Linked DNA regions of Homo sapiens. The protein of the gene in region 1 purifies or fractionates together with the protein of each later gene. This does not show direct contact. Each region holds a gene or a part of one and is shown in the gene's direction. Other genes may lie near its edges.

What was found.
Region 2: the proteins of POTEC (region 1) and HMMR purify together in Homo sapiens (affinity purification with mass spectrometry; 2 studies listed by BioGRID and IntAct, with this or other methods). This does not show direct contact.

Annotation. Positions count from the first base shown.
Region 1 is NC_000018.10:14,506,837-14,512,631, reverse strand, and holds the end of POTEC (POTE ankyrin domain family member C), read left to right. Parts: intron 1-638; coding exon 639-734; 3' UTR 735-5,293; downstream 5,294-5,795.
Region 2 is NC_000005.10:163,477,629-163,484,661, forward strand, and holds part of HMMR (hyaluronan mediated motility receptor), read left to right. Parts: intron 1-1,055; coding exon 1,056-1,172; intron 1,173-4,975; exon of another isoform or gene 4,976-5,013; coding exon 5,014-5,160; exon of another isoform or gene 5,161-5,391; coding exon 5,392-5,544; exon of another isoform or gene 5,545-5,639; coding exon 5,640-5,739; intron 5,740-6,440; coding exon 6,441-6,617; intron 6,618-7,033. UniProt on the Homo sapiens protein: Receptor for hyaluronic acid (HA). Involved in cell motility. When hyaluronan binds to HMMR, the phosphorylation of a number of proteins, including PTK2/FAK1 occurs.

The DNA of each region.
Region 1 (5,795 bases):
TCCTGGCTGCATATATTTTTTGACCTCTCCTTTTAAGAATCGTGATCCTAAATGAGTTGAGTGTTGTAGGTAGAAGTGCAATGCTTAGACGCAGATGTGTACATTGTAGAAGGGTACAATGCTTAGATTTAACAGTTATGAATAAATGTAATGCTTACAACTGACTGTAAAAATATTAGGACAGCAGTATATTGATAAAACATTCCTCAGAAAAAGGAACTTAAAGAACTTTGAGGAATTGCTTCTGTCCTAATATACGCATAGCTAAGGCTCTTATGATGGTGTGGTTTATAGGTTAGATATCAGAGTGTAAACCCAATTTAAAAAATGTAGCCAAATGTATTAATCTTCTATTTTATGCCTCTGGGTTTTTTGTAATTCAGAGAAAGGCTTTTCCAATTCTGAAATTCTTAAAAATCCTCTAGTGATTTATTTTTCATGGTCTTTAGATAAATATTTCAACTTTTTGGAATTTACACTCTTTTAGATTTGAAGTTTTGTCCAACTTTTTTCCAGTTAAATATCCACTATGGGAATTATTTCATTATACAAATATAAATGTCATTCTTTAATTTTAGAAGAAATCATGATATGTCATTCTATTGAGTGCTAACTAAAAGTTCCCTTTGTTTACTTAGCTTTCTCTTAGTCATAAGAAAGAAGAAGATCTCTTGCGTGAAAACAGCATGTTGCAGGAAGAAATTGCCATGCTAATTTCTGGAGACTGGAACTAGATGAAACAAAACATCAGAACCAGCTAAGGGAAAATAAAATTTTGGAGGAAATTGAAAGTGTGAAAGAAAAGACTGATAAACTTCTAAGGGCTATGCAATTGAATGAAGAAGCATTAACGAAAACCAATATTTAAGTACAGTGGACAGCTTAGGATTTTGACAACTGAGAATGCTCAGTTCTGAACTGGAGAATGTAAGACACAGCTAGGAAACACTGGAAATGGAAATTCAATCATGTCATTGTAGACTGACTACTGCTCTACATGATTGTGATCAAAGTCAGATAGCTGAAAGGGACTTCTTTCCAGAGAACAAACATGAACAGGTTTATTTACAGGAGAAAATGAATTCTCATATATCTCACCTAAAAGATAACAGTGAGATTCTTTCTGAACAACTCTAACGCTGACAGTAAAATTAACAACCTAAAAATTAAGCTCCATCACACAGGATAAATTCTGAGAGAAAAGATGAGGCAGGCCACCATCTTTCCTGTTTGGGCAACTTAGCGATTCCAGCGTGCGGGCTTTGGAGAGTACAAACCCACCAGGGGCAGAAGAGATCCTGTGGCATAGCACAGCTGCTTTACCAAATCATGTCCAGAATGCTTCTGTAAGCAGGCCTCTGATCCTGTTCCTCGTCACTGGACAGGATCTCCCACCTGAGGCCTCCAGCTACACCCACCAGTGTTCCCTGGCCAATGGAGATTTGAAACCTTCCTGGGACAGAGTTCCCAGAGAGAGGGGTGGGCCATGACCTTTGTTGTTTGGGCAACTAGCCCTTCTGGCCTGTGGGCTTTGGAGAGCCCAAGCTGACCAGGGGTGGAAGTGGTACCTCAGCACAGAACAGCCACCCTGCGAAAACGTGGCCAGATTCTTGTTTAAGCCAGTCCCCAACCACATTTCTAATCACTGGGTGGAGCCTTTCAACCAGGGTCTCCAGCCACCTTCACTGCTGTTCTCTGGCTCACAGAGGTTTCAGGCCTCCTGAGTCAGAGCTCCCAGGGGGAGGACCAGACTGTCATCTTTGCTGTTTGGATGACTCAGCCAGTTCAGTCTTAGAGTTTCAGAGTGTCTGAGGAGACCAGGGGCTGAAGTGAACCCCCCACACAGCATAGCCACTCTACAAAAACGTGGCCAGACTTCTTTTTTAAACAAGTCCCTATTCCTGTTCCTCCTTACTAGGCAAGACTTCTCAACTTGCTTCCAGTCACATCCTACAGGTGTGTTGAGATTGGCAACAGGTTCATACCTCAGAGGTACAGAGCTCCCAGAGGGAAGGGCAGGCTATCGTCTTTGCTTTTTCTCAGGCTTCACTGCTGATACCTTCAGCCACTGGAAAATACGAGGCAATTGGCGACTGGAGTGGACCCCCAGCATACCACGGCAGCCCCACAGAAAAGTGGCCAGACTGTTATGTGGGTGCCCATTTCCATATCTCCTCGATGGGCAGGTCTTCCTGGCCTGGGTCTCCAGCCAGCCCCCCACTTGAGCTTTCAAGCCAGTAGCAACTCAGCAACTCCCTGGACAGAGCTTCCAGGAGCAACAGAAATCCTCTCTGCCACTGCCTCTGCAGTGGAACTGCCCTTGCTACCCTCAGAATATCAAGGGAGCAAAGACCCTAAGTGCCATATTGACACCTCCAACAAGCTGCAGTTGACACAAGGAACAAGTCAGTCCATCTTCCACAGGTACAACACACCCCTTACTGCTCATCACCAGACAAGGAACCGTGGCTTGGGCCCACAACACAGACCCTCCATCCTGGGGTGATTACATTAAGTAACTGCTAACTTACACCTCTCTGGGGTGGAGCCCCCAGGAGACAAGGAAAGTAGTGGAGCAGCAAGTCAGCTGATGTGGAGCCTGGAGGGCAGGGACAGCTATGTCTCTAGGCTCCACTTGCTCTTATGAGACACTTTATCCCAGCACTTTAGGAGTGCTGAGGTCAGACCAGCCCCATCTCACGTGCAAGATTGCCCAGCACAGATCAGGTCTAAGAGTTCTCTTCGTAAAAAAGGGGACTTGCTTAAAAAAGAAGTCTGGCCACGTTTGTGTAGAGCAGTTGTGCTGTGCTGAGGATTCACTTTTGAGAGAGTTCTCCTCTGAGACCTGATCTGTGCTGGGCAGTCTTGCACATGAGATGGGGCTGGTCTGACCTCAGCACCCCTTAGTCTGCTTGCCTCTCCCAGGACCCCAGCCAGGCCACACCTGCTTAGAGGGCACTTTCGGGTGCCCACACCATAGCTTCTGTACAAGCGGACCGTGCCTGATCAGTGGAGAGCTGCAGCAAGGTGACCTCTACAGCCACGCACTAGCCTGCACATTACCATTCCATACTGCAGCCCTTTATATGGAAACTTCCTACATCACTTTGCTGTGTGTGTTTACACAGGTGGGTTTTGTTGTACTTGCCCTAACAGCATATGGGAATGCAGCACACACCCCAACCCACACCAACTGCCACTGAAGATGAAGCCATGGTGGGCACAGAACCAAAAACCCCACCCCTGCTAGCATCTCACCCTTGAGGTAATGCTGTGCAGAGGAAAAGGGACCTTCTTATACCCTGAGTGACCACTGTTGCTTGGGGGGGATCAGAGAAGGCACCTTCACTGGCCAGCCACCCACCCCAAACCAGCACTACCTCCAGTGCAACAGCACACACAGTCAGCAGGGGCCCGTGGCCCACACCCCAGCTGTTTTGCCTCCACCACTGGGTGAATGCCCACAGGGAGGCAGGGACTTTTGCATCTGCTAGCATTCTGCCACAGCTGCTGCACTTTGGTCCCCTCAGTGCAGTGGACTCCAAACCTCGAGGAGCCAGAGGACAAAGTTGTGGCCCAATACAAGTTCCCCAGAGTTAAAGCACACAGTCCAAGAATTGGGAGCTGCATGTTGGCCCCTTAAAATCCTCCAAAAACAAAACCTGTTGGCTGAATCCACCTTACACCACAATCAAATCCTCAAGGTCATCAGATATAATAAAGGAAAAATACCCTGTCCAAAGGTCAGCAACCTCAAAGATTGAAGATGGATAAGCCCATAAAGATGAGAAAAAGACTCTGTGCAAGAACACTGAAAACTCAAAAATTCAGCATACCTTCTTTTCTCCAAATGACTGCATCAACTCTCCAGCAAGTGTTCAGAACTGGGCTGAGGCTGAGATGTCTGAAATGATACAAGCAGAGTTCAGGATATGGGTAGGAACAAAGTTCATTGAGTGAAAGAAGTATGTTGTAATCCAATACAAGGAAGCTAAAAATCATTGTAAAACATTGCAGGAACTAACAGACAAAATAGTGAGTATAAAGAAGAAAATAACTGACCTGACAGAGCTGTAAATCACACTAGAAGAATTTTCATAATGTAGTCACATGGTGATTGTGTGTGATTGCATTATGAATATTATTGTAGTATGTGTGGGCACCTGAGAGTGCCCTGTAAGCAGGTGTGGCCAGGCTGGGGTCCTGGGAGAGGCAAGCAGACTAGGGAGGGCTGAGGTCAGACCAGCTCCATCTCATGTGCAAGACCATCTAACAGAATAGACCAAGAAGAGGAAAGAATCCCAGAGCTTGAAAACTGGCTTTCTGAAATAAAACAGGCAAACAAGAATGGGGGAAAAAAGAATGAAAGGGAATGAACAAAACATCCGAGAAATATGGGATTATATAAACGACCAAATCTATGACTGATTAATGTACCTGAAAGAGATGAGGAGAATGGAACCAACTTGGAAAACACATTTCAGAATATCATTCATGAGAATGTCCCCAACCTAGCCAGACAGGCCAACATTCAACTTCAGGAAATCCAGAGAACCTCAGTAAGATATGCCATGAGAAGATCATCCCCAAGACACATAATCATCAGATTCTCTGAGGTCAAAATAAAAGAAAAAATGTTAAAGGCAGCTAGGGAGAAAGGCAACATCACCTGCAAAGGGAATTCCATCAGACTTAGCAGACCTCTCAACTGAAACTGTACAAGCCAGAAAAGACATTCAACATTTCAAAGAAAAGAAATTTCAACCCAGAATTTCATGTCCAGCAAAATTAAGCATCATAAGTGAAGGAGAAACAAGATCGTTTTCAGACAAGCAAATGCTGAGGGAATTCGTTATCACCAGACCTACCTTACAAGAGCTCCTGAAGGAAGCACTAAATATGGAAAGAAAAGACCACCACCAGCCACTACAAAAACACACTGAAGTACACAGACAAGTGATGCTAAAAACCAACCACATACATAAGTCTGCAAAAGAGCCAGCTGACAGCATGATGACAGGATCAAATCCACACATACCATTACTAACCTTAAATGGAAATGGGCTAAATGCTCCAATTGAAAGACACAGGGGGCAAGCTGGATAAAGAACCAAGACCCATTGGAGTATGCCGTCTTCAAGAAACCCATCTCACATGCAGTGCCATACATAGGCTCAAAATAAAGGAATGGAGAAAAATATTTCAAGGAAATGGAAAACAGAAAAAAGCAGGTGTTGCACTCCTAGTTTCTGACAAAACAGACTATACCAATAAAGATTTAAAAAAAAAAAAAGACAGAGGGCTGGGCGCGGTGGTTCACGCCTGTAATCCCAGCACTTTCGGAGGCTGAGATGGATGGATCACAAGGTCAGGAGATCAAGACCATCCTGGCTAACACGGTGAAACCCCGTCTCTACAAAAAATACAAAAAATTAGCTGGGCATGGTGGCGGGTGCCTGTAGTCCCAGCTACTTGGGAGGCTGAGGCAGGAGAATGGTGTGAACCTGGGAGGTGGAGCTTGCAGTGAGCCAAGGTCGTGCCACTGCACTGCAGCCCGGGAGAGACAGTGAGACTCCGTCTCAAAAAAAAAAAAAAAAAAAAAAAAAACACAGAGAAGGAGATTACAAAGGTGGTCCTGACCTTTGATAAATCTCATTATTGCTTGATACCAACCTGGGCTATCTTTATTGCCCAAACCAATAGGATAATGTGCTGAGGTTAGGGAGCTTCTCCCCTGCAGAGAATCCCTGATCTCCCAAAATTTGGTTGATATCTAAGATTGATTGCCATACAAC
Region 2 (7,033 bases), on another chromosome or scaffold:
AACTCAAAAAACTGTGGTCCAATGGTCAAGAGATAAGGATTTTTATTACTAATTCTGTTAGCTAGCTGGTTGATTCTGAGCAAAACAATCTTAGTTTCTTTGATCTTCTACTTCATTAGATATAAAAGAGTTTTATTAGATGGTCTCTAAGATCCCTTCTAGCCTGGAAATTTCAAGCTTAAGAGAAAAACAAACTAAGAATTGAAAATAATTCCTCTAGGGGACAGGGAAGAAAATATTTTTATTATAAACTCTTTAGTCATATTTGATTGCTCTTGCTGTGGTGTGTATATTTTTGAAATCCGGCACTTGTTACAGAATGAATTTGATCAGCTATTTTTCTTATCTCAGTGTCCAACTTAGTCTATAAGTACACAATGCTTATTTACAATTTTTAGTTCTGTATATTCTTTAAAAGATCTCTCATAAGCTCATATGCATATCTAAAAATTTTATCACCACTTTGGAAATATATTATTTCCAAAATATCCCTGAGATTTAATAGCATATGTATATAAAAATGACTTAAAACCCATTCTGTCTATGCAAAATAATCCATTAAAGAAGTTATTAAGTCTTTCAGTAATAGAGTATTATGTGGGTTATTCATATAATCAGAATAAATCCACAAAGTCTTGTAACTCTGTAGTTTAAAATGAAGTGGCTTTAATTGTTCATGGTATTTCTCAAGTGTCTAAATGGAGAGAATGAAACTTTATTCAATCCAGATGTTTTTTGACTGGTAATCTTTTGCAGTCTTTAGTCCTGGCTAGTATCTTAAGATTTGGTTTTATAGTCTTTTATATCCTACTACCTTCTTCACCCAAATTTTTAAAGTAAAATAAGCAGGAAAGATAAGTTGAAGCTAGTAGAAAAATGCATAAAAAACATGCTTTCGAGGTAAGTCATAAATTAGGATCTGAGCTATTTAGCAGGTAATGCAGTGGTGAAGATATGAGCTATATGATTCACAGTTTCAAAGGTAAATACTATTTTCTTTCTTAGGGTAGTAATTGTAGGTGGCATTTTATCTTTCAATTATTTCTTTTTCTTAGGAAGGAGGCTGAACTGGAGAAAAGTAGTGCTGCTCATACCCAGGCCACCCTGCTTTTGCAGGAAAAGTATGACAGTATGGTGCAAAGCCTTGAAGATGTTACTGCTCAATTTGAAAGGTATTTTTCTTGGGAGCCTGCACTCTTAAATATGATGTGTGCAGAAAGGGGTGTTTACCCCAGGAAATATGTGAGCAAAGCAGTCACACAAAGGATGATTCATACTAGTTTAAATTCCATAATCACCAACCGTAAGTGGGCATTTAGCATTATCTGGTAATCTTATTGTATTTATATAATTCCCCTTTATAATTTATAGAAATTCCCCTTTCTCACCATCCACTTCAACTTTTATGTGCTGAGCCAGGTGCGGCAGCATATGCCTGTAGTCCTAGCCACTGCATAAGCTGAGGTGGGAGGATCAAGTCATGTACTTAGAAGCATTTGGTGCTTCTGCCCTACTCTCTTGATGTTATCATTTTCATAAAGAATTCAGAAGTTTTTATCTCTTGCTAAACCTATAAAGAGACCCACATTTATACTCATCCTATCTTCCCACCTATTACAGATGAAATGTCCTAGTCTTTTAATCTTCAGTGACCTCATTCTATCATTTTGTTTTCTCATAATTTGAAACCTTTTTACTGGAATTTTTCCAATCAATATTAAAACATGTTAATGTACATCTGTCTGTAAAATATATTAATTAGCTGGCCACTGTGGCTCATACCAGTAATCCCAGTGCTTTGGGAGACCAAGGCAGGAGGATTGCTTGAGGTCAGGAGTTTGAGACCAGCCTGGGCAATAGAGTAAGACCTTGTTTCTACAAAAAAAAATATTAAGAATTAGCCAGGCATTGTGGCACATGCTACTTGGGAGGCTGAGGGCAGGAGGATCACCTGAGCCCAGGAGTTCCAGGCTGCACTGAGCTAAGATCACACCACTGCGCTCCAGCCTGGGTGACAGAGCAAGACTGTCTCAAAAACAAACGAAAAATAAATAAAATACATAAGTTGTTTTAAATACTTCTCTGACCCTAACTTCCTTTTGTAGCTGTCTCACACCACCAGTCATTCCCTTCTTAACCCCAAATTCTACTCCTTTTCAGTCCTTTTCCTTCTCCTCCTTTTTCTTCTCTTGACAGAGAAGATTGTCTCTATATCCACTTCCTCACCTCCCATGCCTTCTACTTATTTTCTCCTTAAATAAAAAGTTTATTTTGGGTGGAACTACAAATTACAAAGGCCAATATAATGAATACCTATATATTAATGTTAACATTTTTATTTATCACATTTACTTTAGCTCATTTTGGGGGAGAGTTTCCTTTCTTTTATTTAATAAATACAAAAGAATGCATAACATGTACATAAACTGTAGAGCTTGAAGATAAAACTGACATGCATGAACCTATAAAAGACAACCAGTAAGCCAAAAGATTTTCAACAACTTAGTATCCATATGTAAGTTCCTCTGCCATCCCATGAAAATGGGACAGATAACACTGTCCTGAAGTCTACACTAATTATTTCCTTGCTTTTTCCCCCCTGTGTATTATAATTTTATGACACGTATATCCATACAAATAATGCATTATGTAATTTTCCTTCTCCTTGAACTTTACCAAAAAATGTCATCATAGTATATGCCGTTTCCTGGGACTTATTTTTTCATTCTGCATTATGTGTGTTTTCAGGATTGAATTGTGTTGTCTGAGGCTATGGTTTGTTGATAGTCACTGCTATGAGTATTTTATTGTATGAATATACCACAACTTATTTATTCATTCTTTGGACTTTGAGTTGTTTCCCATTTGGTTAGTTATTATTAGTTATTTTGTGACTATAAGAATACATGTATGTAAGAATTTCTCTAAAGCCAAAGGTATATGAATGTTCAACTCTAAAACTTAATATCAAATCACTTTCCAATGTGGGAGTAAGAATCTACACTCCCACTAGTGTTGTATAAGTTTCCATTTATCTTCTTTGCCAAAGCTTGTTAGACTTCTTAAACTTTGCCAGTGTACTTAGTGTAAAATGGCTTCTTATTGTGGATAATTCATCTTTCCTTTTCCATAAAATGCTTGTTTATGACTTTTGTTTATTTGTCTATAGGGTTATCATCTTTTCCTCATTGATTTGTAGAGGTTTTCTTTATCAGCCATATGGGTTACAGGTATCTTCTGCCAGTTTAGCTTATTTTTTTATTTTCTTTTTGGTTTCTTCTGATGAGTGGAAATTCTTGATTTCAATATGGTTAAAATATTTATCTGTATGTGGGTACTTTTGCTTCTCATTTAAGAACTTCTTTCTATCTCAAGGTGTAAAGATATTCAACCAGTTTTCTTCTAAAAGTCTTAAAATTTCACTTTCCATTTTTCCACCTAGAACTGATTTCTGTGTGTGTAGCAATATAGGGATCAAATTCATTTTTTGTTTTCCCTATGGACAACCAACTGCCTAGTTTAATTTAATTCATTAAATTGTACCTTGTTTCCCCAGTGATCTGTTCCCACATGTGATACATTATGACAGACACATAGATAAATAATTTATAAGTGTATATGTTTTATTTATAATTTTTATTGTATCAGAACATATAAATCATATAAATATATGTAAATTTTATATATATATATTTATTGCTAATATCAATCCTGTAAAGGAATTTCCCTTCTCGTTAGTTTGAAGAATAGTGCTTCAGGGGGTTTTTATCTATTCTGTGATTTTAGTCACTATCCATATACTCGTGGCATTAAAATTTATTTCATCAAACCAGACCTTTCTTTACAGCTCCATATTCACATATCCAGTTACCCACTTGACATCTTCAAGTAGATATCACACTGTCTTTTAATATTAACCTGTCCAAACCAACTCTTGATCCTTCCATTGCTTTCTACCCCTAGTCTCTCATTGTTTTTATTGTAATCAGTGACATCATCTTCCCAGCTTTTCATTCTGTAAATCTTAGAGTCATCCTTCATCATTCTCTCTTCCTTACCCCCAATATTCAGTCTATCTCTTGAATTTTCCTACTCTGCTTCCAAAAGAGATCTTGTGTCTTTCCATTGCCAGCTCCTTAGTCTAAGCCTCCTTTATCACTCACCTGGGCTGATAAATAATTGTTTTGGAGTTGATCCTTCAATTTTCCATTCTTTTCCCCTGCCCTAATCCATCTTCCTCATAGCTCTAGAGTGAGCTACACATTTAATTAAACACCTTTTTATTTTATTTATTTGTTTATTTTGAGTCGGAGTTTCGCTCTTGTTGCCCAGGCTGGAGTGCAATGGCACTATCTCAGGTCACTGCAACCTCCCCCTCCCAGGTTCAAGTGATTCTCCTGCCTCAGCCTCCCGAGTAGCTGAGATTACAGGTGTCCACCACCACGCTTGGCTAATTTTTTGTGTTTTTAGTAGTGATGGGGTTTCACCATGTTGGTCATGCTGGTCTCGAACTCCTGACCTCAGGTGATCCACCCGTCTCGGCCTCCCAGAGTGCTGGGATTACAGGCATGAGCCACCACGCCCAGCCTACTTGGACACCTTTAATGGTTCCCGTCTGTCCGCCAGGTAAGCCCACTGTGCCCTGCGGTGATGACCCTCATGCCACCAGCTTCTGCTCCAGCCTTTCTTACTCATTAGGCTCTAGTCTCACTTCTTATTTTTTAAATTGTGAGTAATTTTCATGCTTGGTAGTTGATTTCTTTTCCATCTCTGTATGCATACTTCCTGCACCTAGTAGGCACTTGATTTTTTTTTCTTTGAATACACAGCAGATGCCATGTAAACTCATTAGTACTTGCCTCAGAACACTGAATTCTTACCTGTGTTAAATGCATGAATACATTAAAAACTTTTTAGTTTTACTTAGAAGTATATAAAGTGTAAACTAATCAGTTATGATTGTCATACGCAATAGTTAGAAAACTACTTTGACTTTTTTTTCTTTTTAATAAGCTATAAAGCGTTAACAGCCAGTGAGATAGAAGATCTTAAGCTGGAGAACTCATCATTACAGGAAAAAGCGGCCAAGGCTGGGAAAAATGCAGAGGATGTTCAGCATCAGATTTTGGCAACTGAGAGCTCAAATCAAGAATATGTAAGGTATATAGAGCAAATAATGGCCTTAGAACCATTAAGACAATTTAATGTTGAAAGCCAGCTAGTAACTGTCCCTTGGCTTGCTTTTGGCCATCTTATACTGCAAATTAAGAATTTACTCAGTTAAAAAATGACACTTCTTGAAGAGTTCCTTGAGGTTTAAAGAAAAAAAAAGGAAAAATTAATGAAAGTGGCTATAAAATGTTTAGTGACCTCTTCTCTCTCAAACCAAAGGATGCTTCTAGATCTGCAGACCAAGTCAGCACTAAAGGAAACAGAAATTAAAGAAATCACAGTTTCTTTTCTTCAAAAAATAACTGATTTGCAGAACCAACTCAAGCAACAGGAGGAAGACTTTAGAAAACAGCTGGAAGATGAAGAAGGAAGGTAATCTATGATTAGAACCTGAGTGCCTTGTTAACTCAGTTACGATGTGATTTTTTAAATAACTATGTTTTTCTCAATTTAATTCTTCCATGCAGAAAAGCTGAAAAAGAAAATACAACAGCAGAATTAACTGAAGAAATTAACAAGTGGCGTCTCCTCTATGAAGAACTATATAATAAAACAAAACCTTTTCAGGTTTGTCAGTTAGGAGTAAACTTACTTGTGTTTATTTTAGGGACTCACTTTGTTCCCTATTATAGTGAGGACAGTGACTCGGGTTTTCTGCAAGATCATTTTGCTCTGCACTTACAGTGCCAATTTAGCTCACTATTAAAGGTTTATACATTTTATTAAATTATGCATAATTTTTTCCCACATTATTGAAGTATAATTGACAAATTTAATTGACATAATTTTTTCAATGGACCCTTTGTGGTTTAAAAAAAAACTTTGTAATGTGGAACTTAAAAGTTTGGCTCAGAGGGCTTGCCTGGTATGAGCTTTTGATAATTAACCTATTTTAATTTGTGGTATGACTTATTGCAAATACTCATTGTTTCTCAATATACTGATCTTTTAAAAGAAAAAAGAATAAATGCTGATTTTGGAACTTAGAAGTACAGTATTGGTTATAATGTGGTAATCTAACTGATACAGATAAAACTGGCCAGCTGGCTTTTTTACCTTGTTTCTTTTCCTCTGTTTTAATGATCTTTAAAATGAAAAATACAAAGTTTAAAAGATTCTCATAGAGAATCTATGGAGAGCCCTGAGAATATGTGAACATACCTTGTTTTCATTTGTGTTTTTAATTTTCTTTAGTGTTTATGGTTTATATGAAACTAGTAAGATCAAACTGTTTTAAGTCTTAACTTTATTTAAAAAATCTTTTTCAGCTACAACTAGATGCTTTTGAAGTAGAAAAACAGGCATTGTTGAATGAACATGGTGCAGCTCAGGAACAGCTAAATAAAATAAGAGATTCATATGCTAAATTATTGGGTCATCAGAATTTGAAACAAAAAATCAAGCATGTTGTGAAGTTGAAAGATGAAAATAGCCAACTCAAATCGGTTTGTAAAATGACTTTTCATTTTATTAAAGATATTGGAGTGGGGGTTATTCTAACTATAATACTTAAATAAAATGAATATCTTTGGTATCAGAAAAAAATAACTGTTTATAGAGGAAAATTGAGCTGTGATTTAGTGGATTTATTTTAGAGTGTTGACCAGATGGGCATTCAATGTTCTAAAGTTTTCTAGCTACCTTCTTAATATATTGAAAATTACTTGAGTAATTGGATGAATTCATTAAGCTTTACATATCTATTTCCATTTGCAAAACTGCAAACTCCTTGATGTAAAACCATAAAGAGAAGCAGTGTTCAAAAATATTTGGGCATTTAAATTTTTTAACATATGTATTGAGATATAATTGACAACCCATACAATCCACCCATTGAAAGTGGACAATTCAGTGTTTTTTA